Regions from separate parts of the Homo sapiens genome. Here regions 1, 3, 4, 5, 6 and 7 are each linked to region 2. The links come from fine-mapping of genetic effects on gene expression. A gene starts in region 2. Each other region holds a variant in brackets. All regions are shown on one strand. Distances are from middle to middle.

Evidence for each region. PIP is the estimated chance that this variant, and not a neighbour inherited with it, causes the effect.
Region 1: its variant is the best candidate, but not a certain one, in a credible set for the expression of MS4A6A in whole blood (INTERVAL, PIP 0.81).
Region 3: its variant is the best candidate, but not a certain one, in a credible set for the expression of MS4A6A in whole blood (TOPMed, PIP 0.63).
Region 4: its variant is the best candidate, but not a certain one, in a credible set for the expression of MS4A6A in whole blood (TOPMed, PIP 0.75).
Region 5: its variant is the best candidate, but not a certain one, in a credible set for the expression of MS4A6A in whole blood (TOPMed, PIP 0.50).
Region 6: its variant is the best candidate, but not a certain one, in a credible set for the expression of MS4A6A in whole blood (TOPMed, PIP 0.75).
Region 7: its variant is the best candidate, but not a certain one, in a credible set for the expression of MS4A6A in whole blood (TOPMed, PIP 0.50).

The regions. Positions count from the first base shown.
Region 1 is chr11:60,650,966-60,655,035 of GRCh38, forward strand. It overlaps LINC00301 (long intergenic non-protein coding RNA 301), which reads left to right. Exons shown (of 7, transcript NR_026946.1): 5 at 2,724-2,818. The region is part of intron 4 of LOC105369321 (a long non-coding RNA gene); the gene reads right to left. Among named protein-coding and RNA genes, the nearest start is that of LINC00301, 37 kb to the left of the region's middle. The variant C/T (reference allele first, on the strand shown) is at 2,408.
Region 2 is chr11:60,180,610-60,184,670 of GRCh38, forward strand. It overlaps MS4A6A (membrane spanning 4-domains A6A), which reads right to left and starts at 2,474. Exons shown (of 6, transcript NM_022349.4): 1 at 2,369-2,474; 2 at 972-1,132. The coding sequence starts at 1,118.
Region 3 is chr11:60,226,100-60,230,169 of GRCh38, forward strand. MS4A4E (membrane spanning 4-domains A4E) reads right to left here. Exons shown (of 9, transcript NM_001393391.1): 2 at 3,813-3,972; 3 at 2,495-2,528. The coding sequence starts at 3,956. Among named protein-coding and RNA genes, the nearest start is that of MS4A4E, 15 kb to the right of the region's middle. The variant A/G (reference allele first, on the strand shown) is at 2,468.
Region 4 is chr11:60,220,450-60,224,519 of GRCh38, forward strand. The region is part of intron 3 of MS4A4E (membrane spanning 4-domains A4E); the gene reads right to left. Among named protein-coding and RNA genes, the nearest start is that of MIR6503, 13 kb to the left of the region's middle. The variant C/G (reference allele first, on the strand shown) is at 1,910.
Region 5 is chr11:60,579,934-60,584,003 of GRCh38, forward strand. It overlaps the pseudogene MS4A19P. Among named protein-coding and RNA genes, the nearest start is that of LINC00301, 34 kb to the right of the region's middle. The variant T/G (reference allele first, on the strand shown) is at 1,695.
Region 6 is chr11:60,236,272-60,240,341 of GRCh38, forward strand. All of the region lies in intron 1 of MS4A4E (membrane spanning 4-domains A4E), which reads right to left. Among named protein-coding and RNA genes, the nearest start is that of MS4A4E, 4.8 kb to the right of the region's middle. The variant A/C (reference allele first, on the strand shown) is at 2,081.
Region 7 is chr11:60,526,640-60,530,709 of GRCh38, forward strand. It overlaps MS4A13 (membrane spanning 4-domains A13), which reads left to right. Exons shown (of 7, transcript NM_001012417.3): 6 at 2,726-2,821. Among named protein-coding and RNA genes, the nearest start is that of MS4A13, 13 kb to the left of the region's middle. RefSeq lists a silencer at 2,426-2,575. The variant T/C (reference allele first, on the strand shown) is at 2,235.

The DNA.
Region 1 (4,070 bases), 470 kb after region 2:
CTGGAGGGAAACTTATCTCAGGATGAATCATGCCTTGAATCTCATGCCTATATCTGATTTAGATGATACTCTTGACTTTGGACTTTTGAGCTGTTGCTGGAACAAGTTAAGACTTTGGGTCTCTAGGGATAGAATGACTGCATTTTGTATATTAGGACATATGTTTTGGGGGACTATGGGATAAATGCTATGGTTTGAAGGTTTGTCCCCTCCCAAATCGTGTTGAAATTTAGTTGCCGTTTTATCAATATTAAGAGGCAAGACCTTTAAGAGTGATTCATCCATGATGTCTCTGCTCTCATGAATGGATTAATGCCTTATCACTGGAGTGGCTTTGTTATTGAGGGAATCGGTTCATTATAAAAGGAAGAGTTTGGTCCTCTTTTGCCTCTCTATCTCTCACCATCTCTTTGCCTTTCCACCATGGGATGACACAACAGTAAGACCCTTGCCAGATGCCAACTCCTCAATCTTAGACTTCCCAGCTTCCAAAACTTTGAGCCAATAAATTACACAGTCTGTGGTATTCTATTACAGCACAAAATGGACTAATACAACTTGAGAGGAGCCTAATATATGATGTATCCTGGAGAATGTTCCATTAGTACTTGAGAAGAATGTGTATTCTGCTACTATTAGAAGAAATGTTCTTTATTTGTATATTAGGTCTATTAGGTCTACAGTGTAGTTCAAGTCCAGGATTTCCTTAATGATTTTCTGTCTGGATGATCTGTCCATTGCTGAAAGTGGGATATTGAAGTTGCCTACTATTATTGAATTGCAGTTTATTGCTCCCTTCATATCTATTAATATTATATATATGCACACATTTATATGGTGCTCCAATGTCGGGTGCATATATATTTACAATTGTTATGTCCTTTTGATGAATTGACCCCTTTATCACTATATAATTACTTTGTCTCTTTTTACGATTTTTTACTTAAAGTCTATCTTGACACATATAAGATAGCTACCCATGCACTGGTCTCCCTTTGTGTGGAATATCTTTTTCCATCCCTTCACTTTTAGTCTAAGAGTGTCTTTAAAGGTGAAGTGAGTCTCTTATAGGTTCCATAGAGTTGGGTCTTATTTGTTTATTCATTCAACCACTCTGTCTTTTGATTGGAGAATTTAATCTATTTACATTTAAGGTAATGTTTGACAAGTGAAGAGTTAGTATTGCCATTTTGGTATTTGTTTACTGACTGTTTTGTAGTTCCTTTGTTCTTCCAATCTTGCTGGTTTCCTTTGTGATTTGTTGAATTTTTGTAGTGATATGCTTTGATTTTTTTTTTATCTTTTTCACATCTGCTATAGGCTTTCTTTGTTTTGTTTTGGGTTTTTTTTGGTTTTTCTAATACTTTAAGTTCTAGGGTACATGTGCACAACGTGCAAGTTTGTTACATAGGTACACATGTGCCATGTTGGTTTGCTGCACCGATCAACTCATCATTTACATTAGGTATTTCTCCTAATGCTATTCCTCCCCCAGCCCCCTGACAGGCCCTGGTGTGTGATGTTCCCCACCCTGTGTCCACGTGTTCTAGTTGTTCAACTCTCACCTATGAGTGAGAACATGAGGTGTTTAGTTTTCTGTCCTTGTGATAGTTTGCTGAGAATGATGGTTTCCAGCTTCATCCATGTCCTGGCAAAGGACATGAACTTATCCTTTTTTATGGCTGCATAGTATTCCACGGTGTATATGTGCCACATTTTCTTAATCCAGTCTATCATTGATGGACATTTGGGTTGGTTCCAAGTCTCTGCCATTGTGAATAGTGCCACAATAAACATACGTGTGCATGTGTCTTTACAGTAGCATGATTTATAATCCTTTGGGTGTATACCCAGTAGTGGGATTGCTGGGTCAAATGGTATTTCTAGTTCTAGATCCCTGAGGAATCGCCACACTGTCTTCCATAATGGTTGAACTAGTTTACAGTCCCACCAACAGTGTAAAAGTGTTCCTATTTCTCCACATCCTCTCCAGCACCTGTTGTTTCCTGACTTTTTTATGAACACCATTCTAACTGGTGTGAGATGGTACCTCATTGTGGTTTTGATTCGCATTTCTCTGATGAACAGTGATGATGAGCATTTTTTCATGTGTCTGTTGGCTGCATAAATGTCTTCTTTTGAGAAGTGTCTGTTCATATCCTTTGCCCACTTTTTGATGGGGTTTTTTTTTTCTTGTAAATTGGTTTAAGTTCTTTGTAGAATCTGGATATTAAGCCCTTTGTCAGATGGGTAGATTGCAAAGATTTTCTCCCATTCTGTAGGTTGCTGCTATAGGCTTTCTTTTGTATTTACCATGAGGCTTAAATAAAAAATCTTGTAGATATACCTATTTTAAGCTGATGACAACCCAACCTCACTTGCATACAAAACCTCTACACTTTTACAC[C/T]CCATACCACATTTTACATTTTTCTGTTACAGTTTACTTCTCTAGGAAAGACGAAAATAATGGGAGTGGGTCAGCTACATCAAAAGGTATCTACTCAGTCTCATTTTAAGGTCATTACAGAAGAATAAAATCTAAGAGGTAGCTTTTGGCTTTTGCCAGGAAGTTATTGCTGTTTAGCAGAGAATAGTGTCAGTGGGTTGATGCAAAAAGCTTTTTGCAAGGAATTGCTAAGCAGTGGAAAATCAGAGGCTTCCATTTCAAGTGCCTTATCTCAAAATAATCATTAGTATTACTTGTTCTCTATATTTCTCTATAGCAAAGGAGTCCATTCATCCTCTATAACTGCTATACAATATCTCTGTTAAAATGCTGAGAAGATTTATCCTAAAAGAAGGCACCAAAGCAATGGGGGTAAGGACTAAGTGCTACTTGGGTTAATAAATGACTAGTGTTGCTTCTTCCTAATAGAAAAAGGAAAAGACATTGACCACATCTTCCCCAAAGGAAGGAGAATTGACAAAAGTGTCCTAAGGTGATGATAACTAGCCTAAAGCTAATTGGACTCAAATGTGACGGACCCAAAAAAACATTCCGGAATAGTTCAACGTTACCACAATCCACCCAGGGTTCTAACAAATACATTCTGTGTTTGCTGATATATGAGAGGTCCATTTTCTGCCTGTGTCTGTAAACAGTTTGAATCAAAGCTCATCAATCATAAAGTGGTCAGGTAATGGGCTTAAAACCAGAAAAGGCTGTAGACCCTGGGGCACTGTACTGTCAACATGTGCCCCTTACATTCAGCTCAGGTGGGTCACATTCTGCTTCAATGATCTCCCGCTCAGCTCTCCTCAATCTTAGAATACTATACCCTTTTGTATTATCCAATATTTGTGGGACCTTGAATCACATTTGCATTTAAGTCAGCAACATTAAACCTTGCACTAGGAAAATTCTCAACGTATCAAATATATTATTATCTCCAGCTGGTTGAGACCTACCCAGTACACTATCAGAATGCAGGGCATACCTACATGCCTCTGAGTCAACAGGCAAAAATGAGAGTTAACGATGTTAGCTAGGGTGATCAATCCAGGATGCCAAGGGGAAATTGGACCACTACTTCACAATGAATAGAGGCAAAAATGAATATGTCTGGAATACAGGAGATCCTTTAAGATGTCTCTTAGTACTGTCATGCCCCATGATTAAGGTCAATGGGAAATTACAACAACCCAATCCAGGCAAGCCTATGAATGGCCCAGACTCTTCAGGATTAAAGGTTTGGGTTATCCTGTCAGGTAAAGAAACATGACCAGCCAAGGTTGCATAATACCCAGGCACAACCCCAAAGTAGACAGCTGTAGCACTGTAGCCCCTTTCTGAGGCATTCCTGAAGAAAATAATGAAGAAAAATCTTCCCAGTGGACAGAACTTCAAGCAGTACACGAGGTTGTATATTTTGCTTGGAAGGAGAAATAGCCGGGTGTGTGACTATATACTAATTCATGGGCTGTGGCCAATGGTGTGGCTGGAATGTCAGGGACTTGAAACGAATATGATTAGAAAAGTGGTGACATAGGAGTCTAGAGAACAGGTTTGTGGATAGACTTCTGAATAGGCAAAACACATAAAGATATTTGTGTCCCATGTTAATGTCCAC
Region 2 (4,061 bases):
TCCATTAGTTATTTTTCCTGATCCTCTCTCTCCTCCCACCCTCCACCCTCTGAAAGGCCTCAGTGTGCATTGTTCTGTTCTACGTGTCCATGTGTTCTCATCATTTAGAGGCCATCCCCCTTAGCAGACTAACACAGGGACAGAAACCAAATACTGCATGTTCTCATGTATAACTGAAGCTCTGTCTTAGGAGGTAGTTTTCCTTCCTGACATCCACCTCAGAGATTCACAGCTCTATTATCATTTACCAAAAAGTTTTCTAGACCTTATGTCACATGAGCCTCATAGAAACCCATGTGATTGTACATGAGGCAAGGAAACCAGTCCCACCAGGTCCTGAAATCCAGTCAAACAGAGTGCCTCACCTCAGATCACATAAGTGCAGAGGCAATTCTAGAAACCAAAACTCTGTGTTTCCCTCCCAATCCAAGATAGATCCCTTCTTTCTCTCCTCCCTTCATGCAATACAGCTTCTTTAATAAATTCTGGGTGAGAGGAGAAACAGACAAACAAAAGGTGAATATCATTTCCATTCTCAAAAACGTTAGGAGAAAAGAGGAAAAGGAGTTGTATATTTCCTCTAATTTGCAGTGAGGGAAAAATTATTTGCAAAAAGTCAGTTTGGATTATTAAGCATGCAGTTGTGGAATATATACACATACACACAATATGTCATTATTTACCACCATTACTTTTGTAAAAGAAAATATAGAAAAGCACTGTATTGTAAAAATACAAAGACAACAATAGAAAATCAATTCCTCATATTCAGAATAAGGGAAAATATATTTTTAAGACAACCTCTTGTGGAAAAGTTCTGGGACAGTTTTCTCCAAGTGGCTTCTACCCTAAAGTCCCTCTAGCAAAATTTTAGGGTCTCCACACTCACGACAGATGTCCAGTCCCAAGACATATATCATCTCTTGGCACTTCCCCCAACCCCTCTCCAACACGTTCTGAATTAGATTTACCCCAATAACTTTGATTTCTGCGTGTAGATGTTTCTTCAGGCTATCCTGCCCCTGGTTGGTGGGTTCGGGTTTCTCTGCTTGGGAGAAGTTGATGACATTTGATGGGAGCACTATGATGGTCTCATTGGGAACAGGTTGTGATGTCATGATGGTGTTGCCAACTATGTAAGAAAAAATAGATTTAGCTCTTAAAAAGTACAGAGCTCCCAGGTTCTGACTCCAAAAACAGTAACTCAGTCTTTGCCAATTAGTCTAGGCTTGGCCTGTCCATTAGAGAAAGAAACTGATAGTATGGAACAGTGAAAACCACACAATCTTGGTTTCATGAGGATTTTTCCATAATGTTTGACACAGTCCATTATAGATAATAAACACATCACAGGGTGGCAGCAACATGAATCTTGAGAGGTCTCAATGTCCAGAGGCAAATGGTCACACAAAATTTGCAATATGCAACAACCTCCCTTTCCTCTAGTCCTACTGACAACAACTGTATTGCCATATATTTGATGAATTTTCAGACTAATAAATGAACTCTGCTTACTTATTTCTTGTTTAATAATACTATTTATTAGCACTCAGATATGTTTATCATATTTTACCAGACACATTCTTAATTTTTACCCTGCAGTGCTTTTAATCCTTACAACAGCTCTGCATGTTAGTAAGTTAGTAAAAACATGTAATAAATAAGAAAATGCAAAATAAAGTTTAAGTTATGAATGCAAATAATATACCTATTGCATATATGTGTGGCCCAGAGTTAATGCTGAAGAAATATTTGCAGTTACCCTTATTGTTCACCCTGGTTCACACAGCCGGGAAGCTGTAAAACCAGTCTTGGATCTCAGCTTTCCTGGAGTCTGAAGCCTTTGCATAAATCTCTAGATCATTCTACCTCTTCCTAATTTCCCACCTGGCATTGCCAGCCTGTGTCTGAGTTTACTCAGGCTGGAGAAACAGCTGCATGCAGTGGTATGAGAACAAGTCTTGGACTCATAACACATAGGCTCGCGTCGTTGGTCCTCCCCACTTTTTAGCATAAAGACCAAGTAGGTTGTGGTATTTGTTGCTAAGCTCAGCTTGGATCCCTTTTCACGGCACCATTCTCAAAGCACAGACCGCCCAGTTTACAAATGGTCTAAACACATTTGAAGAGACAAGAGCTCTGCTCCCATTAATTACACAACCTTAGGTAAGTGACTCACTGAGTTTATGCAATTAGAATACAGCGGACACAGAGTTAAAAACAGATACTCCTTCCATTTGCCCACTCTATTTCCAAAAGGCCCTAGTGTCTCTTAACTGCTGTCAAGGAGTTTCAAGTTAAATTACTCCTCTAATGAGGTCACGGCAAGGGAATAGTGAGATGAGAAAAGTCTTCCAGCATTACCTACCTGTGCCCGTTGGTTCCAGCTGAGTCCTCAGAAGCTCCAAAGAGGTTTTAACTCTGGTTTCTCAGTCCCATCAACGGTTTCTACTTACCTTCATCTTCTGAAAGTCATCAGCCCTTCCTTATTCCAGTGTTTACAGCTATACAGGATGTGATACTCACAGATTGTAGATTTGTGAAATGTTCCTGCACTTCCTTTTCTGTAAACTTCTAGCAACTTCAGTAAAACCATGAAAAGAGCCAACTAATATTTGTGAGAGTTCAGGAGTCATGGAGCCTTATGTGTGAATTGCCACTTCGAGACATACAAGTTTCCTGTTGTTAGGCAAGTCTGTTCTTGAAGCTTCAGTTTTCTAATCTGTTAAATAGAGGAGCAATACCAACACTGGAGAATTGTCATAAAGATGAGCAAAAATATTTATAAAAAGCCTATGCTGCTTTGAAGCTTTCAATAACATGTAACTAATAACAGTAATAGTGCTAGTAATCATAATATAGAGAAAGAACAATATTCCACTGTCTATAACTAACCATAATAATAATAATAGCAATAATGACTACACTGCTTTAAAGGAACATTCATTAATATATAGCTAATAGTAATATAGAACATAAAAAAACTTTTAAAAAATTGTTTTTTATATATATAGTTTGTTTGTTTGTTTTGTTTTATCTTGCTTTTCTAATTCCCCAAGTCTTGGCAGGCTGAAAGCAACCTTTCAATACTGATTGCCCAACTGCTGCCTACCCTCAAGTCATCTTCCTCCTCTGGCTGCTCTTTTTCTCTAACAACAGATCTTTGCCCTCCAGAAAGGTTGGGCCCCTCCAGGGAAGCATTGAAATATTGAAACAGAGAAGGAACAAATGGGAAAGATTCAGCAGGACCTAAATGAATTCAGTAAACTCATATGCAGGCTGGTTTTGTGAGGACAGAGGCACTGTGCCCCTTCAAAACCTTGGGTGGCATTCTTTGGAAGCTGACTTCAATGTATCAGGCAAGGAAACCAGAGCCAGTCAGGGCAATGGCAAAGCCCCACCCTGCAAGCTTCCTTCCTCCTTTCCTTGGGGGAGCTTCCAGAATGAACCCAGAAACACAACCTGAACCATCACCGTCACCACAGAGGGCCATGGATTCTGCACTTAATTCCACACATTAACTCTCCTGTTGAAGAAAGGAGTTAAGAAGCACCATTTAGAAGGCTGGATTAGTTCTCAGCGTCTGAATGACACAGACATTATGAAATGTAATTGGCTTGTCTTAAGTTCTAACAATAAATCTGAGAGGAGGAATGGACTCACACAGAAAGCCTGGGGAGAGGGGCAGAATCACCTCCAACCTTGCTCACCCAAGCTCCTGGCGCCCCTTCCTCTTTCGCAGAGTGCCGTCTGTGTTTCCAGTGGGTGCCCTGCATCTTTGTCACCCTCACAGCATCTGTGAAACAGTGGAATGCAGCTCTCCTCCTGAGCTTTGATTAAAAAGGAGCCCAGTCTCTTTGGTCTCTTCAGGAGCAATCACACCCCCTTTCCCTTCAGGGGAATGTGCTAATAAACCAGTTAAAGTTGCCTACCTAAGCAAAGGCTCCCTCTCCAGTCAGTTTTCCTCTCTGTGCTATTTAATTTAAAATCATTTCTGAGTTTTAAGGATTATGTGAGACAACACGTGTAAGGTTCCTAGCACAGAACCCTTCGGAATGATG
Region 3 (4,070 bases), 45 kb after region 2:
AAGAAATAGGCACTCTGAATAAGCCTATAATTATTAAATAAATAAAATAAATAATTAATTAATTTTCAAAACAGAAAGCACCAGGCCTGGAAAGGTTTGGAATTCTACCAAACACTTGAAAATGAAATTATACCAATTCTTTACAGAAAACAGAAAAAGAGGAAATACTCCCTAACTCATTCTATGGAGCTAGCACTATTATCTACCAAAAAAAAAAGTCAAAAACATTACAAGAAAAGAAAACTGCAGACCAACATCTCTGGTGAACAAAGATGCAAAAATTCCCAACAAAACATGTGCAAACTAAATCTAATAGTGTATCAAAAGAATTATATACCATAACCATATGGGATTTATCCCAGATATGCAAGGCTGACTAGACATTCAAAAATCAATGAATGTAACTAATGACATCAACAGGCTAAAAGGAAGAAAAATCACATGATTATATCAACAGATGCAGGAAAAATATTGAGCAAAATCCAATGCCTGTTTATTATAAAAACTTTTGAAAAACTATTAATAGAGGATAACTTGTTTAGGTTGATAAAGAATATTTATTAATAAAACTACAGCTAACTTCATACTTAATGGAGAAATTCAAAGCTTTCTCACTAAGATCAGGACCAAGGCAGGGATAAGCCTGTCACTACTCCTTTTACCATTTACTGGAAGTCATAGCTGAAATGGTAAGACAAGAAAAGGAAATAAAGGTATACAATTGGTAAGGAAAAAAATAAAACTGCTTTTATTCACAGATGACGTGATTGTCTGTGTAGAATATCTGAAAGAATCAACCAAAAACTCCTGGAATTAACAAATGATTATATTAAGGTTGTAGGATACAAGCTTAATACACAAGAGTCAATTACTTTCTTATGTACTTATAGTAAATAAGTGAAATTTGAAATTAAAAATGCAATACTATTTAAATTAGCAACCCTAAAAATTAAATATTTAGGTATTGGTATTTGGTGTTTGTTAGGCATAAATCTAACAAACTATGTACAAAATCTATAAGAGAAACTTAAAAAAAAATAAGTCGAATAACTAAATAAATGGAGAGATATTCCATGTCCATGGATAGGAAGACTCAACATTGTCAAGACATCAGTTCTTCCCAATTTAATCTGTAGATTTAATGCAATCTCCCTCAAAATATTAGCAAATGGCCGGGCGTGGTGGCTCACCCCTGTAATCCCAGCACTTTGGGAGGCCGAAGCGGGCGGATCACGAGGTCAGGAGATTGAGACCATCCTGGCTAACATGGTGAAACCCCATCTCTACTAAAAATACAAAAAGTTAGCCAGGCATAGTGGCAGGCGCCTGTAGTCCCAGCTACTCCAGAGGCTGAGGCAGGAGAATGGTGTGAACCCGGGAGGCAGAGCTTGCAGTGAGCTGAGATTGGGCCACTGCACTCCAGCCTGGGTGACAGCGCCAGACTCCATCTCAAAATATATATATATATATTAGCAAATTATTTGTGTATATTGATAAACTGACTCTAAAGTTTATAGGGAAAGGCAAAAGACTTAGAATAACAAAAACAATCTTGAAGAAGAAGGAGTTTTAGGAGTAACACTACCCATCTTTAGGACAAACTATAAAGTGATAGTAATCAGGACTGTGTGATATTGGCAAAGAAATAGACAAATAGATCAAGGGAATAGAATAGAAAGCCTAGAAATAGACACAGAAGTATAGTCAAGTGATCTTTGATAAAGAACTAAGATAATACAATTAGAAGAATAGTCTTTCCAAAAAAAAAATACTACTTAAAAAACTGGACCTCCATAGGCAAAAATTGAACTTAGACACATACCTTGTATCCTTCACAAAAATTAACTCAAAATAAATCACAGACCCAAATGTTGAACTCAAAACTCTGAAACTCTTAACAGATGACATAGGCCAAAATCTAGATGACCTTGGTTTTGGTGATGAGTTTGTCAATACAATACCAAAGGCACAACCCATGAAATACCGAATTAATCATCTTAATTTTATTAAAATTAAAAAATTCTGCTCTGCAGAAGACACTGTCAGAAGAAAAGATAAACCACAGACTGACAGAAGGTATTTGCAAAAAACATACCTGACAAAGGATTGTTATTCAAAATATACAACGAAATTCAAACTCAACATTAAGAATACTAACATCCCAATTAAAAAAATGTGTCAAAAACTTTAATAAGACACCTCAAGAAAGAAGATATGGAGATGGTAAATAAACATATAAAAAGATGCCCCACATCTTATGTCACCAGGGAAATGAAAATTAAAATGGTAATGAGATTGGACTACACACCTATTAGAATGGTAAAAAATCCAGAACATTGAGGAAATCAAATGCTAGCAATTATGTAGAACAGCAGGAACTCTCCTTCATTGTTGACTGAAATCTTCAAAATTGCAAAGTAACAGGGAAGACAGTTTGGCAGTTTCTTACAAAACTAAACATACTCTT[A/G]CAATACAATATAGTAATCATACTTACCCGAATGAGTTGAAAACTTATGTCCACACAAAACCTGCACACAGATATTTATAGCAACGTTACTCCTAATTGCCAAAGTTTGGAAGCCATCAAGATGTCCTTCTGTAGGTGAATGCATAAATAAACTGTGGTACCTCTAGACAATGAAATATTATTCAGTACTAAAAATAAATGAGCTATTAAGCCATAAGAAAACATAGAGGAAATTTAAATGCATGTTATTAGGTGAAGGAAGGCAGTCTTTAAAAACTACCTAATTTATAATGTTAACTGTATGACTTTCTGGAAAAGGCAAACTATGAAGACGATAGAAGATTAGTGATTGCCAGGGATTGGTGGGATACTGTATGATACTATAAAGGTAGATTCATATCACTATGCCTTTGTTAAAGCCCATAGAACACACAACACAGAGAATGAACCCCATTGTGATTTGTGTACTTTGAGTAATGATGTGTCAACATAGGTTCATCAACTGGAACAAATGTCCCACTCTGGTGGGGGAAGTTGATAATTGAAAAGCTATGCATGTGTCGGGGCAAGGGGCATATGGGATATACCTGTACTTTGCTCTCAATTGTTCTTTAAGCCTAAAACTGCTCTAAAACATACAGTATATTTTAAAATAATTATCCATACATTTAAAAATTGAACCTAGTATGTGCCAACATAAATAACATATTTTATGAGAAGTAACTATATTTCTCTCCAAAAAAATGAATAATGCAAAAAAAGAGAAGGAATCCAAAGAATCCACAGTGACATTTTCTCAGTGGTTTGAAGCTTGGGCTAGTGATAAACCTATATTTAATGTTCTTTCACCTTCCCTAACCTGTCACTGTTTTAATTCTATATTGTTTTTAGACACGTTCGCCTGAGACTCCAGAAGGAAATGCTCAGAGAATAGCAGATTTTTCATCCTCTGAGCAGTAGGCTAAGAAAAGCTGCAAGAAAGAAAGAGTAGCAATATACATCTATCAGCTGTCAGGAAGGCCTGTGGAGGGGGAGTCAGCTAGTGGACAGGTGGGCCTTTTCTTTTGCCGTTCTTCTATATTGAAGTTAAATATAATTATCATGGCTGACCCACAACCCTAGAATAGATCTGAAGTCAATATATTTTAAATATAATTAATTTGGAAGCAGGATGTGATAGAATATTATATATTTTTTCAAAGAAAGGGCCTGAAATTAAATTCTGATGTTACTAGGGCTGGTTGATGTATTATGAGGCTAGCGGGACAGTGTATTGGGCATTAGCTCTGATCAAATGTGAGTTTACAACACTATTGGTCTTCTCCCAGATTTGCAATTGACTTACCCCAAGGACTTTGGGTTTCCTCTTGAAGAACTTCTCTTGCAATCCTTTACACAGATATGAATGTATGACATCTATGTTTCCCAGCTGGGGCACATCAGGGCCAGCCCCTGGAGTGGTCTGTTCCATTCCTTGCATGGTTGTCATGGCAGCAGAAAAGGTGCTACAATAAGAAATGTAATTTAGGATGAGGTCCTGGAAATGACAAAAGAAAGTCTTGACACTTTGGGGCAGATTCCTCCCTAAGGACAAAACCTGGTC
Region 4 (4,070 bases), 40 kb after region 2:
TTTACTGTCCTACCTCAGGGGTATATCAACTCTTCTCTGGCTTTGTGTCATGACCTTGTTCAGGGAGATCTTGATCACTTTTCCCTTCCACAAAATATCACACTGGTCCATTATATTGATGCCATTATACTGATGGGATCCAGTGAGCAAGAAGTAGCAAGCACACTGGACTTATTGGTAAGACATTTGCATGCCAGAGGATGGGAAATAAATATGACTAAAATTCAGGGACCTTCTACCTCAGTAAAATTTCTAGGGGTTCAGTGGTGTGGGGCCTGTCAAGATGTTCCTTCTAAGGTGAAGGATAAGTTGCTGTATTTGCCCCCACCCCCTACAACCAAGAAAGACTCACAATGCCTAGTGGGCTTATTTGGGTTTTGGAGGCCACACATTCGTTACCTGGGGGTGTTACTTGGCCCATTAATCAAGAGACCTGAAAGGCTTCCAGTTTTGAGTGGGGTCCAGGACAGGAGAAGGCTCTGCAACAGGTCCAAACTGCTATGCAAGTTGCTCTGTCACTTGGGCCATAGAACAGAGCAGATCTAATTGTGCTTGAGGTGTCAGCAGCAGAGAGGGATGCTGTTAGGAGCCTTTGGAAGTCCCCCATAGATGAATCACAGCAGAGGCCTCTAGGATTTTGGAGGAAGGCCCTGCCATCTTCTGCAGATAACTACTTTCCTTTTTAGAAAGAGCTCTTGCCCTGTTACTGGACTTTGGTAGAAACTAAACGGTTGGCTATGGGTCATCAAGTCACCATGCGACCTGAACTACCTATCATGAATTGAGTGCTTTCTGACTTGTCTAGCCAAAAGTGGGGCATGCACAGCAGCATTCCATCATCAAATGGAAGTGGCATATATGTGATCAGGCTTGAGCAACTCCTGAGGGCACAAGTAAGTTATATGAGGAAGTGGCACAAATGCTCATGATCCCCATTCCTGCCACACTGCCTTCTCTCCCCCAGCCTGCACTGATGGTCTCATGGGGAGTTCCCCAGGATCAATTAACAGAGGAAGAGAAGACAAGGGCCCTGTTTACAGATGGCTCTGCACGATATGCAGGCACCACCTCAAAGTGGTCAGCTGCAGCACTACAGCCCCTTCCTAGGACATCCCTGAAGGACAGCGGTGAAGGAAAATCGTCCCAGTGGGCAGAATGTTGAGCACTGCACCTCATTGTGCACTTTGCTTGGAAGGAGAAATGGCCAGATCTGCAATTATATACTGATTCATGGGCTATAGCCAATGGTTTGGCTGAGTAGTCAGGGACTTGGAAGAAGCATGATAGGAAAATTGGTGACAAATAAATTTTGGGAAGAGGTATGTGAATGGACCTCTCCGAGTGGTCAAAAACTGTGAAGATATTTGTATTTCATGTGAGTGCTTATCAAACGGTGACCTCAGCAGAGGAGGATTTTAATAATCAAGTAAACAGGATGACTCATTCTATGGACACCAGTCAGCCTCTTTCTCCAGCCACCCCTGTCATTGCCCAATGAGTCCATGAACGAAGTGGCCATGGTGGCAGGGATGGAGGATATGCATGGGCTCAGCAACATGGACTTCCATTCACTGACCTGGCTATGGCCACTGCTGAGCACCTAATTTGCCAGCAGCAAAGACCAGCACTGAGCCCTCAATATAGCACCATTCCTCGGAATGATCAGCCAGCTACTTGGTGGCAAGTTGATTATATTAGACCTCTTCCATCACGGAAAGGGCAGCGGTTTTTCCTCACCAGAATAGACACTTACTTTGGATATGGGTTTGCCTATCCTGCACACAATGCTTCTGGCAAGACTACAATCCAAGAACTCATGGAATGCCTTAACCACTGTCATGGTATCCCACATAGCATTGCCTCTGACCAAGGCACTCACTTGTTGGCTAAAGAAATGCGGCAGTGGGCT[C/G]ATTCTCATGGAATTCACTGGTCTTACCATGTTTCCCATCATCCTGAAGCAGCTGGATTGATAGAATGGTGGAATGTCCTTTTGAAGTCACAATTACAACATCAACCAGGTGACAATACTTTTCAGGGCTGGGGCAATGTTCTCCAGAAGGCTGTGCATGCTCTGAATCAGCGTCTAATATAAGGTACTGTTTCTGCTATAGCCAAGATTTGTGGGTCCAGAAATCAAGGGGTATAAGTGGAAGTGGCACCACTTACCATCACCCCTAGTGACCTACCAGCAAAATTTTTGCTTCCTGTTTCCACAACACTATGTTCTGCTGGCCTAGAGGTCTTAGTTCCAGAGGAAGGAACGTTGCCACCGGGAGACAACAATGATTTCATTAAGCTGGAAGTTAAGATTGCCACCTGGCCATTTTGGGCTCCTCTTACCTCTAAGTCAACCAGCTAAGAAGGGAGTTACAGTGTTGGCTAGGGTGACTGACCTGGACTATCAAGATAAAATTAGTCTACTACTCCACAATGGAGGTAAGGAAGTATGTGTGGAATACAGGAGATCCCTTAGGGTGTCTCTTAGTATTACCATGCCCTATGATTAAGGTCAATGGGAAACTACAACAACCCAATCTGGGCAGGACTACAAATGGCCCAGACTAGGCCTTCTGGAATGAAGGTTTTGGTCACTCCACCAGGAAAAAAAAAAACACAACCTGCTGAGGTGCTTCCTGAAGGCAAAGGGAATACAGAATCGGTGGTAGAAGAAGGCTGTCATCAATACCAGCTACAACCATGTGATCAGTTGCAGAAATGAAGACCGTAATTGTCATGAGTATTTCCTCCTTCTTTTGTTAAGAACATGTTTGTGCATGTATACATTTGTAGTAAGAAAATATCTTCATTTTATTTTCTTTCTTTTTTCTTTACCATGTGACATAAGACCTATTAACTTCATATTAGCATTTAAGTGTTGTTAACTTTAGGTAATAGCATTTGTATAGGGGATTGGTGCATTTTGGGTTGTACAAAAAATAGCTGCATTATGTTAGGCATAATTTTGGCCTTTTGTCTTTATTTTCTTTATTTGAAAATCATGTATGACTTCAGGAGATGTGTGTGGGTTCAGGTTGACAAGGGGTGGACTCTTGATGGTTAATATTGAATGTTAACTTGATTGGATTGAAGGATGCAAAATATCATTCCTGGATGTGACTATGAAGGGGTTGCCAAGGGAGATTAACATTTGAGTCAGTGGACTGGGAAAGGCAGACCCACCCTCAATCTGGGAGAGCACAATCTACTCAGCTGCCAGTGTGGCCAGAATAAAAGTAGGCAGAAGAACATAGAAACACTAGACTGGTTTAGTCTCTGGCCTACATCTTTCTCTCGTGCTGCATGTTTCCTACCCTCAAACATCAGATTTCAAGTTCTTCAGCTTTGGGACTCAAACTGGCTTCATTGCCCCTCAGCTTACAGATGGCCTATTGTGGGACCTCTCCTTGTGATTGTGTGACTCAATACTCCCTAATAAACTTCCTTTTATATATATACACATCTATCCTATTAGTTATGTCCCTCTAGAGAACCCTGACTAATACACTCTCCTTCAAATCTTTCACTTCCGCTGTACACGAGTGAAGGGGAGCAAAAATTAAGCTCTATTATAAAACTCTAAACTGTCTCATTCTCAGTTTTGGAAATAAATGGAAACCCTATAATGCTAGAATAGATTCCTTGATTCTAACATAAACCCGCCTCATAAATTTTATTTTTCTTTTGTCAATAGGTAAGACTTGGTATTTTATTCTCAATTTTACTTTCAATTTGCATCAAAACTCTCTTGTGTTTTCTCTTGGGAAAAGGTTTTTAAACTTAAATTCCAATTCTAATTTTAATTTAATATTAATCATAGTCACTGTTATTAAACTTATGAAACAAAATGTATCAAATAACAATTTAATTTTCTAAGGTAACAATTTCCTGAGATTTGATAGTCAGTAGACTCTATATTAGAAACTGCCTGTTTACCAGCCACATCTCTTTTTCCTTGCTAACTAAACCATCATTTTCTTCAGTTTTTCCTGAGCTAAAAGGTAGTGTAGACTCCTCCCAGCTACAGAGGTAAATCTTAATCAGTCTAAGCCAGTAATGGCAAGTCCATTACC
Region 5 (4,070 bases), 400 kb after region 2:
GAGTTTGCTTTGAAAATGTTGAGTTTGAAGTATTTATTTAATATTCAACTGGAGATGTCAAGTAGCCTGTTGGACATGGAATGTAGAGTTCAGAAGACAGAATTAGAATAAAAGATACAGACTTGCAGAAAGGACAAGACTTCACCAACCAAGTATCTGCTGCCTTCAAGAGACTCACCTAACACATAAGGAATCACATAAACTTAAAGGAAAGGGGTAGAAAAAGATGTTCCATGCAAATGGACACCAAAAGCTAGCAGGAGTAACTATTCCTCTATGAGACAAAACAAACTTCAAAGGAACAGCAGTTAAAAAAGACAAAGATAGACCTTATATAATAATAAAAGGCCTTGTCCAACAAGAAAATATCACAGTCCTAAATATATACGCACCTAATGCTGGAGCTCCCAAATTTATAAAACAATTACTACTAGACCTAAGAAATGAGATAGCAACACAATAATAGGGGGGACTTCAATACTCCACTGGCAGCACTAGACAGGTCATCAAGACAGAAAATCGACAAAGAAACTATTGATTTAAACTATACCCTGGAAGAAATTGACTTAACAGATATTTACAAAACCATTGTACCCAACAACTGCAGAATATGCATTCTATTCATCAGCACATGGAACTTTCTCCAAGATAGACCAAATGATAGGCCACAAAACAGGTCTCAATAAATTTAGGAAAACTGAAATAATATCAAGTATTCTCTCAGACCACGTGGAATAAAATTGGAAATCAACTCCAAAAGGGACCTTCAAAACCATGCAAATACATGGAAATTAAATAACCTGCTCCTGAATGATCATTGGGTCAACAATGAAATCACAATGGAAATTACAAAATTCTTTGAACTGAATAATAGTGACACAAACTATCAAAACCTCTGGGATACAGCAAAGGCAGTACTAAGAAAAAAGTTCATACCCTTACATGCCTACATCAAAAAGTCTGAAAGAGCACAAATAGACAATCTAAGGTCACACCTCAAGGAACTAGAGAAACAAGAACAAACCAAACACAAACCCAGCAGAAGAAAAGAAATAGCCAAGATTAGAGCAGAACAAAATGAAATTGGGGGAAAAAAGCAATGCAAAAGATAAATGAAACAAAGAGCTGGCTCTTTGAAAAGGTAAATAAAATTGATAGACCATTAGCAAGAGTAACCAAGAAAAGAGAGATGATCCAAATAAGCTCAATTAGAAATGAAATGGGAGATATTACAACTGAAACCACAGAAATACAAAAGTTAACTCAAGGCTACTATGAACACCTTGTGCACATAAATTAGAAAACCTAGAGGAGATGGAAAAATTTCTGGAAATTTACTACCCTCTTAGATTAAACCAGGAAGATATAGAAGCTCTGAACATACCAAAAACAAGCAGCAAGATTAAAATGGTAATTAAAAATTACTAACAAAAAAAAAGCCCAGGACCAGTTGGATTCACAGCAGAATTCTATCAGACCTTCAAAGAAGAATTGGTACCAATCCTACTGACACAACTCCAAAAGACAGAGAAAGAGGGAATCCTCCCTAAATCATTCTATGAGGCCAGTATCACCCCAATACCAAAACCAGGAAAAGGACATAACAAAAAAAGAAAACTACAGACAAATATCCCTGATGAACATAAATGCAAAAATCCTTAACAAAATACTAGCTAACCAAATCCAACAGCATA[T/G]CAAAAAAGTAATCCACCATGATCAAGTGGGTTTCACACCAGGAAGGCAGGGGTGTTTTAACATACTCAAGTCAATAAATGTGATACGCCACATAAACAGAATTAAAAACAAAAATCACATGATCATCTCAATAGATGCAGAAAAAGCATTTGACAAAATCCAGCATCACTTTATTATTAAAACCCTCAGCAAAATTGGCATACAAGGGACATACCTCAATGTAATAAAAGCCATCTAACAAATCTACAGCCAACATAATACTGAATGGGGAAAAGTTGAAAGCATTCCCTCTGAGAACTGGAACAAGACAAGGATGCTCACTCTCACCACTTCTATTCAACATAGTGCTGGAAGTCCTAGCCAGAGCAATCAGACAAGAGAAAGAAATAAAAGGCATCCAAATCAATAAAGAGGAAGTCAAACTCTTGCTGTTTCCTAATGATACAGTTGTATATCCAGAAAACCCTAATGACTCATCCAAAAAACTCTTAAAACTGGTAAATGAATTCAGCAAAGTTTCAGGATATAAAATTAATGTACACAAATCAGTAGCTCTGCTATACACCAACAGCAACCAAGCTGAGAAACAAATGAAGAACTCAACCCCTTTTACAATAGCTGCAAAAAAAATAAAATATTTAGGAGTACACCTAACTAAGGAGTTGAAAGACCTCTACAATGAAAACTACAAAACACCACTAAAAGAAATCATAGATGACAGAAATAAATAGAAACATCCCATGCTCATTTGCTGGGTAGAATCAGTATTTTGAAAATGGCCATACTGCCAAAAGCAATCTACAAATTCAGCACAATTCCCATCAAAATACTACCATCGTTCCTCACAGAACTGGAAAAAAACAATCCTACAGTTCATATGGAACCAAAAAAAAAAAAAAAAAGCCTACATAGCTAAAGCAAGATTAAGCAAAAACAACAGATCTGGAAGCATCATATTACCCAACTTCAAACTATACTATAAAGCCCAAACAGCATGGCACTGGTATAAAAATAGGCACATAGACCAGTGGAACAGAATAGAGAACCCAGAAATAAAGCCAAATACTTACAGTTGGTGTATCTTTGACAAAGCAAACAAAAACATAAAGTGGGGAAAGGACACCCTATTTAACAAATGGTGCTGAGAGAATTGGCAAGCCACATATAGGAGAATGAAACTGGACCCTCATCTCTCACCTTATTCAAAAATCAACTCAACATGGATCAAGGACTTAAATCTAAAAAAAAATATATAGAAGATAACATCGGAAGAACCCTTCTAGACATTGGCTTGGGCAAAGACTTCATGACCAAGAACCCAAAAGCAAATGCAACGAAAACAAAGATAAATAGGTGGGATTTAATTAAACTAAAGAGCTTCTGCACAGCAACAGGAACAGTCAGCAGAGTAAACATCAGAGTAAACAGACAACCCACAGAGTGGGAGAAAATCTTCACAATCTACACATCTGACACAGGACTAATATCCAGAATCTACAAGAAACTCAAACAAATTAGCAAGAAAAAATCAAACAGTCCCATCAAAAAGTGGGCTAAGGACATGAATACACAATTCTCAAAAGAAGATATACAAATGGCCAATAAACATATGAAAAAATGCTCAACATCACTAATGATCAGGGAAATGCAAATCAAAACCACAATGTGATACCACCTTACTCCTGCAAGAATGGCCATAATAAAAAAATTAAAAAAAATAGATGTTGGCATGGATGCAGTGAAAAGGGAACACTTCTATGCTGGTGGGGGAATGTAAACTAATACAACCATTATGGAAAACAGTGTGGAGAGTTCTTAAAGAACTAAAAGTAGAACTACGATTTGATCCAGTAATCCCACTGCTGGGTATCTACTCAGAGGAAAAAAAAAGGTCATACAAAAAAGATACTTGCACCCACATGTTTATAGCAGCACAATTTGCAATTGAAAAAATATGGAACCAGCCCAAATGTCCATCAATCTACAAGTAGATAAAGAAGCTGTGGTATACATTTACAATGGAATACTACTCAGCCATAAAAAGCAACAAATTAATGGCATTCACAACAACCTGGATGGAACTGGAGACTACTATTTTAAGTGAAGTAACTCAGGAATGAAAAACCAAACATTGTATGTTCTCACCCATAAGTGGGAGCTAAGCTATGAGGCTGCAAGGGCATAAGAATGATACAGTGGACTTTGGGGACTCAGGGGAAAGGGTGGGAGAGGGTGAGGGATAAAAGACTACAAATTGGGTTCAGTGTATACTGCTCAGGTGATGGGTGCACCAAAATCTCACAAGTCACCGCTAAAGAATTTACTCATGTAACCAAATACCACCTGTTCCCAAAAACCTATATAAATTTTTTAAA
Region 6 (4,070 bases), 56 kb after region 2:
TGGACTATTCTGAGTCCCTTGTATTTCCATATGATTTTGGAATTAGCTTGCAAATTTCTGAAATAAGGTTGCTTGAATTTTTTATAAAGATTGTGTTGAATCTGTAGGTCAATTTGAATAATATTACCATCTTACCAATATTAAGCCTTCCAGTTCCTGAATATGAGTTTTTTTTCATTTGTTTAAATTTTCTTTAATTTCTTTTAACATTTTGTAGTATTCGATGTACAAGTCTTGTGCTTATTTTGATAAATTTTGTTCTATTTGAAACTATTGTAAAGGAGATTGTTGTCTTAATTTCATTTTTAAATTATTCAGTGCTAGCATATAGAACTCCAATTTATTTTTGTATGTATATATATTTAATTTAACTTTTATTTTAACTTCAGGGGTACATGTGCAGGTTGGTCATACAGGTATTGTGTCATAGGGTTTGATTTACAGATTATTTTATCATCCAGGTTTTTTTTTTTTTTAAATTTTGAAACCGAGTCTTGCTCTGTCACCCAGGCTGGAGTGCAGTGGTGTGATCTCAGCTCACTACAACCTCCGCCTCCAGGGTTCAAGCAATTCTCCTGCCTCAGCCTCCCGAATACCTGGGACTACAGGCATGCACCACCACGCCCGGCTAATTTTTGTATTTTTAGTAGAGATGGGTTTCACCATGTTGGCCAGGCTGGTCCTGAACTCCTGACCTCAGGTGATCCATCCACCTCAGCCTTCCAAAGTTCTGGGATTATAGGCATGAGCCACTGCGCCCAACCATATCACCCATGTTTTAAGCCTAGTACCTATAATTTATTTTTTCTGCTCCTCTCCCTTTTCCCAGCCTCCACCCTCTAATAAGCCCCAGTGTGTGTTGTTCCCCTTTATGTGCCCATGTGTTCTCATCATCTAGCTCCACTTATAAGTGAGAACATGCAGTATTTGGTTTTCTGTTCCTGTGTTAGTTTACTAAGGATAATGGCCTCCAGCTCTATCCATGTTCCTGCAATGAACATGATCTTGTTCTTTTTTTATGGCTGCATAGCATTTCATGGTGTATATATACCACATTTTCTTTATCCAGCCTACTATTGATGGGCATTTAAGTTGATTCCATGTCTTTGCTACTGTGAATAGTGCAGCAATGAACATATGTGTGCATGTGTCTTTAAAATAGAATGATTTCTATTCCTTTGGGTATATACCCACGGTGGGATTGATGGGTTGAATGGTATTTCTGTTTTTAGGTTTTTGAGGAATCACCACAGTGTTCCACAGTGGTTAAACTAATTTACACTCACACCAACAGTGTATTAATATTTCTTTTTCTCCATAACCTCGTTAGTATCTGTTATTTTTATTTTTTTGACTTTTTGTTAATAGTCATTCTGATTGGTGTAAGGGGGCATTTCATTATGGTTTTCACTTGTATTTCTCTAATGATCAGTGATGTTGAGTATTTTTTCATATGACTGTTGGCCGCATGTACATCTTATTTTGAAGTGTCTGTTCATTTGTGTATATTATTTGTATCCTTCAAGCTTGCTTAACTCATTCATTAATTCTAATAGCTTTTTATTTGGTAGGGGAGTGATTCCATTCTATTCGTCATTGGATGAGTATTTTTATCATAAAAAGTATTGGATTTTGTTAATTTTTTAATCTATTGAGGCATTCGTGGTGGCTTTTTGCGGTTTTTGTCTTTTATTCTATTAATGCATTATGTAACACTGATTTTTTGAATGCTAAATTTTATATTCTTGAGATTAATCTGACTTTGTCCTCATATATAATCTTTTTTACATGTTGCCGAATTCTGCTTGCTAATTTTTTTTTAGCATTTGTGTCTGTATTCATGAGAGACATTCATATGTAGTTTTGTTCGCTTATGTTGTCTTTTCTTGATTTTGGTGTCAAAATAATACTAGCCTTATGTAATAAGTTTGGAATTGTTCCCTTCTCTTCTAGTTTTTGATGGAAGGGTATTAATTCTTTTTAAAATGTTTAGTAAAATTCACCAGTGAAATCACAGGAGCCTGGGCTTTCCTTTATAAAAGTTTTTAAAATTCCTCATTTAATCTCTTATTACAGATCT[A/C]TTCAGATTTTGTATTTCTTCTTATTTTTGTATTTCTTCTTCAGTCAGTTTTAGTAGTATCTTCATAAAAATTTGACCATTTCATATGTTATCTGATTTATTTGGATATAATTTTATAGTATCCCTTATAATTTCTTTAATTCTGTAAGTTTGGTAATTATGCTGCCTCTTTCATTCCTGATTTTAGTGATTTCTTCTTGTAATTTTTGTCATTCAATATAGCTAAAGGTTTTTCAAATTTGTTGATCGTTGCAAGAATGAACTTTGGGTTTTGTTGATTTACTCTAATGTGTTTCTACTCTCTATTATTTTCACTCTAGTCTTTATTATTTCTTTTCTACAAGTTGTTTCCATTTAGTTTGTTCTTCTTTTTCCAGTTTATTAAGGTGGAAGATTAGATTACTGAGCCCTATAGATTCACATCCAAATTCTAACACATGTACAAAGAAGTGTTTATACCACAGAAGAGCTAATAAATACCAAAGAGCTAATCCTACTGAAACTATTCCTAAAACATAAGGAGGATTCCTCCCTAACTGATTCTTTGCAAAATGTCAACCATGAACCAGCCTTACGACCTATCCCTTCCATTCCCAGATACATACAAAGAGAAATAAAAACATATGTCCACACAAAAACTTGTAAAATGAATTTTCCTAGCAGTATTACCTATAATAGTCAAAAGGTGCAAACAACCCAAATGTCCAACAACTGAGGAATGAATAAATGTGCAAATAAAAGAGTTCTTCTATTCGCCAGACTAGTGTAGTGGATCCTCTTAAGCAAACGAGTTCTGGAATTAAATTACCCGGATTTAAATTTTGGCCCTGCCACTCCTTACTCAAGTTAATTAATCTTGTGTTTCTGTAACTCTACTCTGTGAATAATACAGCATATCTCGTAGAGAAATTTAATGATGAAATAGCACAGGTAAACATTTAAACCAGTTCATGTCACTTAATAAATACTAACTACCTATTGACTATTATTATTGGTCTTCCTACTATCACTTACTCATTTCTGGCTTGAAGTATAAAACATAAATTTCCTCTAACACTTCCTACCACTCAAGGACATGCTAAAGAGGGGCTTTATTCCTGGCATGACCCTGCTCCAACCTGTCCTGTCTTGGGGGAAGTGAAAAAGCAGAAAGGAGGGGTCTATATAACTGGTGAGAGCATGTTATTCATGGTACCGTGTTGTCAGAGGTTGACTCTTCCTCTCTTTTGCAGTTTGTCTCAAAGATTGGTCAGAAGAGTCAGGGTTGTGCTTGTTTTTGCTCTCATGGACTAGGTAGATACAAGACTATGTAGAGGTGGGCCAAGAGGCCCTCCTCTTCCTCTTGTAATCTCTGTTCTAATGATAATGGAGTTTATGAGGTGACTTACATTTACATTTTATTGAGTAGGTATAATCAAACCTATAAGTAGACTTCAGCATCCCCTGAACAGAATACAAAATTTAGATTTGGAGCAAACGAATAAAATAAAATAGCAGGCCTTATTTTTGGTCTTAAACTGAATCCATACCCTCAAATTTTGCTGAACTTGAGAGAATTGTCCCCCTCTGGGGTTAATTTTGAAGTCACTATAATAAAGCCCATAATTTGATCATTTATCAAATTGTTCCAGCAAAGAGAAGAGGTAATTTTTATTTCAAACATTAGAAGACCAAATTAGAAGATATTCAGTCTTCCTCAAAATTTATCTTTCAGATAAAGGAAGGTGGCACAAGGAATATTATGTGGAGATTACTTCAGAACACTACAAGCAGTCCCTAATCAAGAGAGGCAAGAGCTAAAGGTAACAGGAATGCTAAGAGGGCTATGCGACTGCAAATGTCCTTTCTTGGTAGAAGGCCCAACAATTAGCTCAGTTGTCTGTGTTAAATGTCTGGTAGTTTGTCATTGATACCTTCCGTTACATACCTTCTATGCTCCATCAATCATATTCTAATTCTACGCAACCATTTTTTAACTCTGTATTTCTCC
Region 7 (4,070 bases), 350 kb after region 2:
TTACAGAATTATATACTTACACTTGCTAAGGCAGCCAACATTTTACAGGACTTTTACATGCCAACTTTTCTCACATAAGCAAGGGGCTTGGCTAAATCTACAAAGTCATCAAGTTTTCAGTGTTCCCAGGCAGGGTCAGAAAAGTGCATGCATCTGAAATATACTCCTCATATAGCAAAATGGTTAATAGTATAGATTCCAGGATCAGAGTGCACTTATTTAAATACTATCCTCAGTACTCACTGTGTGTAAACCCCTGGAAAAGTTTCTTAACTTAACTGTTTCCAAGTTTTCTTTTGTGAGAAATGAAGAAAATGCCTGCTAGTTAACTGCTCTGTTCTTTCTTCCAAACTCCCGGCCTGTTGTTTTAAAAGCTAGTTTGACTTTTCTACTTGGCTATGTTTCTATCACTATTATATCAAACTCAACAGATATAAAATGGAAATTACTTACCTCCTCAGAAGTACTATACTGCAAGACTCCCTCGTTTCAATCTCCCACATACAAAACCTTGACATAATACCTCATCTCTTTCTACTGTCTTTATAATTACCAAATATTGCTTATTCTTCATTTAAGTATTTATTAATTAGGGTTATCTTGGTTTTAAGTAATAGGAAATACAACCCAAGTTGACTTAAGGCAAAAAGGGTCACTTACTTTACTTAAGCTGGGTCCAGAAGCTTACAGTTTACATCATCTGCCAGGAACTCATTCATTCCGTCTCTCTCTCTCTCTCTCTCTCTCTCTCTCTCTCTCTCTCTCTCTCTCTGTGTGTGTGTGTGTGTGTGTGTGTGTGTGTGTGTTTCCGTTTCCTCAGTTTTCATATTTGAGCTGCTCTGGCCAACCTTTTGCCGCTTTCAGTCAGGGAGGGAGTTTTAGAATAGCACTCTCATATAAATTAAAGAATATGGGGCCAGGCACGGTGGCTCACGCCTGTAATCCCAGCACTTTGGAAGGCCAAGGCAGGCGGATCACTTGAGATCAGATGTTCGAGACCAGCCTGGCCAACAAGGTGAAACCCTGTCTCCACTAAAAATACAAAAGTTAGCTGGGCATGGCGGTGGGCACCTGTAATCCCAGCTACTCCGGAGGCTAAGGCACGAGAATCGCTTGAACCCAGGAGGCAGAGGTTGCAGTGAGCCGAGATTGCGCCACTGCACTCCAGCCTGGGTGATAGAGCGAGACTCAGTCTCAAAATAAATTAAATTAAAAAATTAAAAAAAATAAGGAATATGGGTAAAATGACTTTTCACAGTCTTGTCAGCTAAGAGGTCCCAAGTACTTTCTAGCTAAAATGTTATGATTATGATTGTGCATTTCTGCCAACAAAAGTAAATCAAAATTATTTACCTTGGTATTTCAAACTTTCTACATCTTTTCCTTATCCTCCTGTTTATATCATATATGAATGAACACTGTAATTCAGTTAAAACCTGTTTTTCATTTTCTCAAAATGTTATATTGCTTACACTCAGTTTTGTTCTCACATTAAAAACCATAGGTTGTTCAAATATGTATTTTAGCTTTACTCTACTGGTTGTATTTTATGTCTCAATTTTTAAATTATTTTGTCACACTTTTAATTTATGCTATTAAACTCTTTCTGAAACAAGATAGGTTACAAGGAAACAAGCAAATAAAAATTTAAAGTTGCCTAGAATGCTGTTTCCTTCCTTCGTTTTTCTCAGTCCTACCCTTATTTCAAAGGTCCTACCACTTTATGAAGCCTTCCCAGAGAGTAATAGCTTGGAGTGAACCTCCTGTCCCTCCTGTCCCCTATAATGATTGAGCAAGTTTTTATCCATTTTTTATGGTACCTTATATTATCTTTCTGTCTCTTCTACTTCATTATAAACTCTAAGAAATCAGGAAGTTATGTGTCATTGCATTCCTATCATCTAATTCCTACTACCAGATAGTTTCTTGAATATAAAAGATATTAAATAAACCAAACAAAGAAGGAGGAGGAAGAGTTAGAGAAGGAATTGAAAGGGAGAGAATTATGATGTCATTCTTTCTAGTTCTGAGTATCATTCTTGTCTTTCCACAGCCAGCACAAAACCCACATTTTCAGGATGAGTACCAATATTATTCACATAACTAACCAATCGGATTTGTAGTTGAAAATATCTTTCTGATAGCAACAGAAGGGAATCTGTTTTATTTATCCCAGCAGTCACAATCACCTTATGCTTCCAAGTTAAATGTTCTTTGAACTCTTTTTGAATGTA[T/C]TAATCATTTTAAATGATATTAGAGCAATATATATGTGAGAGTTTTATCACCATGTATGTAAATTTAAGAAGGGTTGTGATTAATAATAGCTGTTTTAATAGAAAAGGATTGCTTGATAAATCTGTTGGTGGCCATCTTATCATTAGAGACAGGAAAGTCAAATCTTACTAACTGGAGAGTTTAGATAGTGAGCTGTGCCAGCGACTCTGTAAAAGCTGTCAGAAGTGAGACAAGAATGCTAAGCAATGGAGATCAAATGCAGAAGCCACAGATGCTGAATTGAGGAACTGAAAGCTAGGGAAAGTGTAGCAGAGGGCAAAGGAGTAGAAATGTCTAAGGAAATCAAATGGTGAAAGGTTTATCTGTTCTTATTTTCCTTCCTTTTTTTTTTTTTTTTTTTTGACTCTCATACCAGTAGCTCCTTCCATGATCATGTTTGCACTCACTAAAGATAATAGCATTAAGATTTCTCCCTGTTTTTTGGTTATAGAAACTTGGGAGGGAAGTATCACGTATTTTACTGTTCTTCTACGGTTTGGAATTTTCTATTGCACTTACACACTCAATATACAGCTGTTCCAATTTGGTAAGTGTTTACCCACTCTCTGGCAAATCAAAAGATGTTGATTTCTAGTAACTACACTCTATGAGAAGATGAAGTGCACTGATACAAAATATTTAGAACTAATATAAATGGAATGTGTGATATTGCCTTTATTTTTTATTTTTGTTATTTTATAAATAGCATAAAATTATAACAGTAATACATGAAACTACATTTAAAAGCAAAAAGCATATAGAGTAAAAAGTGATTTTTCTTTAATATAGTTCTCATCGTATCCACACATCCAATTCTATACAAAAAAAGACGAATACACACACATTCTCTTTACTAATTGTATGTATTATATTCACATTATTTTGTCACATTCATTTTTTGCAATGATTAGAAATATCTTTCCATTACAAAACATATCTAAATAATGCCTTTTATTGCCTTCATTGTTTTTCTTAGTATTTAGCATTCCCTAATTACTGCATATGTAGCTTGGTTTCCAGTTTTTTCTAAATTATAAACAATGATGCAGTGAACATTTGAGTATAAATATTTTTGCATACAGGACCACTAATTCTTTAGGTGTTTGATTCCTAGAAATGTCATTGCAGGATCAAGTGTAACAACATCCCAAAATGCTATAACAACTCACAAAAGTTTATGAGAATGATTATTTTCTCACAAGCTTAAAAGACTACATATCTAACATTCATTCATTCTTTCTCAAATATTTACGGAGAGCATGCTATTTGCTAGGCATTGTCATAGGCACTAAGGATGCAATGATTAACAAAACAATGGCCTCTCCATTAGGGAGTTTGCATTCCACTGGGGGAGAAAGGCAATAAACAAACACATAAAATTATAAAATGTCAAGAACTGAAAAATGTTATGAAGTAAAATAAAGCAAACTAAGGAGATAAGGCAAGATTATTTTATGTAGGATGGTCAAGGAAGACTACTATGATCAACAACTGATTGAAATACAGAAACAACTATAAGACTACATGGTAAAAGGATTTCTGAAGAGAGGGAATGAGTTGCATTTCCAGAATGGCTGATTGAGGACATGGTAACTCTCCCTAAAAATGAAATTATAAAACTGAACAAAATTGTCAATGAACAACCTTCTAAAGATTCAGGAAGTTGACCAAGCATACAAGAACTTGAGAAGTGTTTATTTAAGAAAATCTACTGGACCTCAGTAAGAACAGTGCATGTCTGTGGCATGTTAGCTTGGGACTGTTCCCACTCTTCCCACCTGATATGGTTAGGCTTT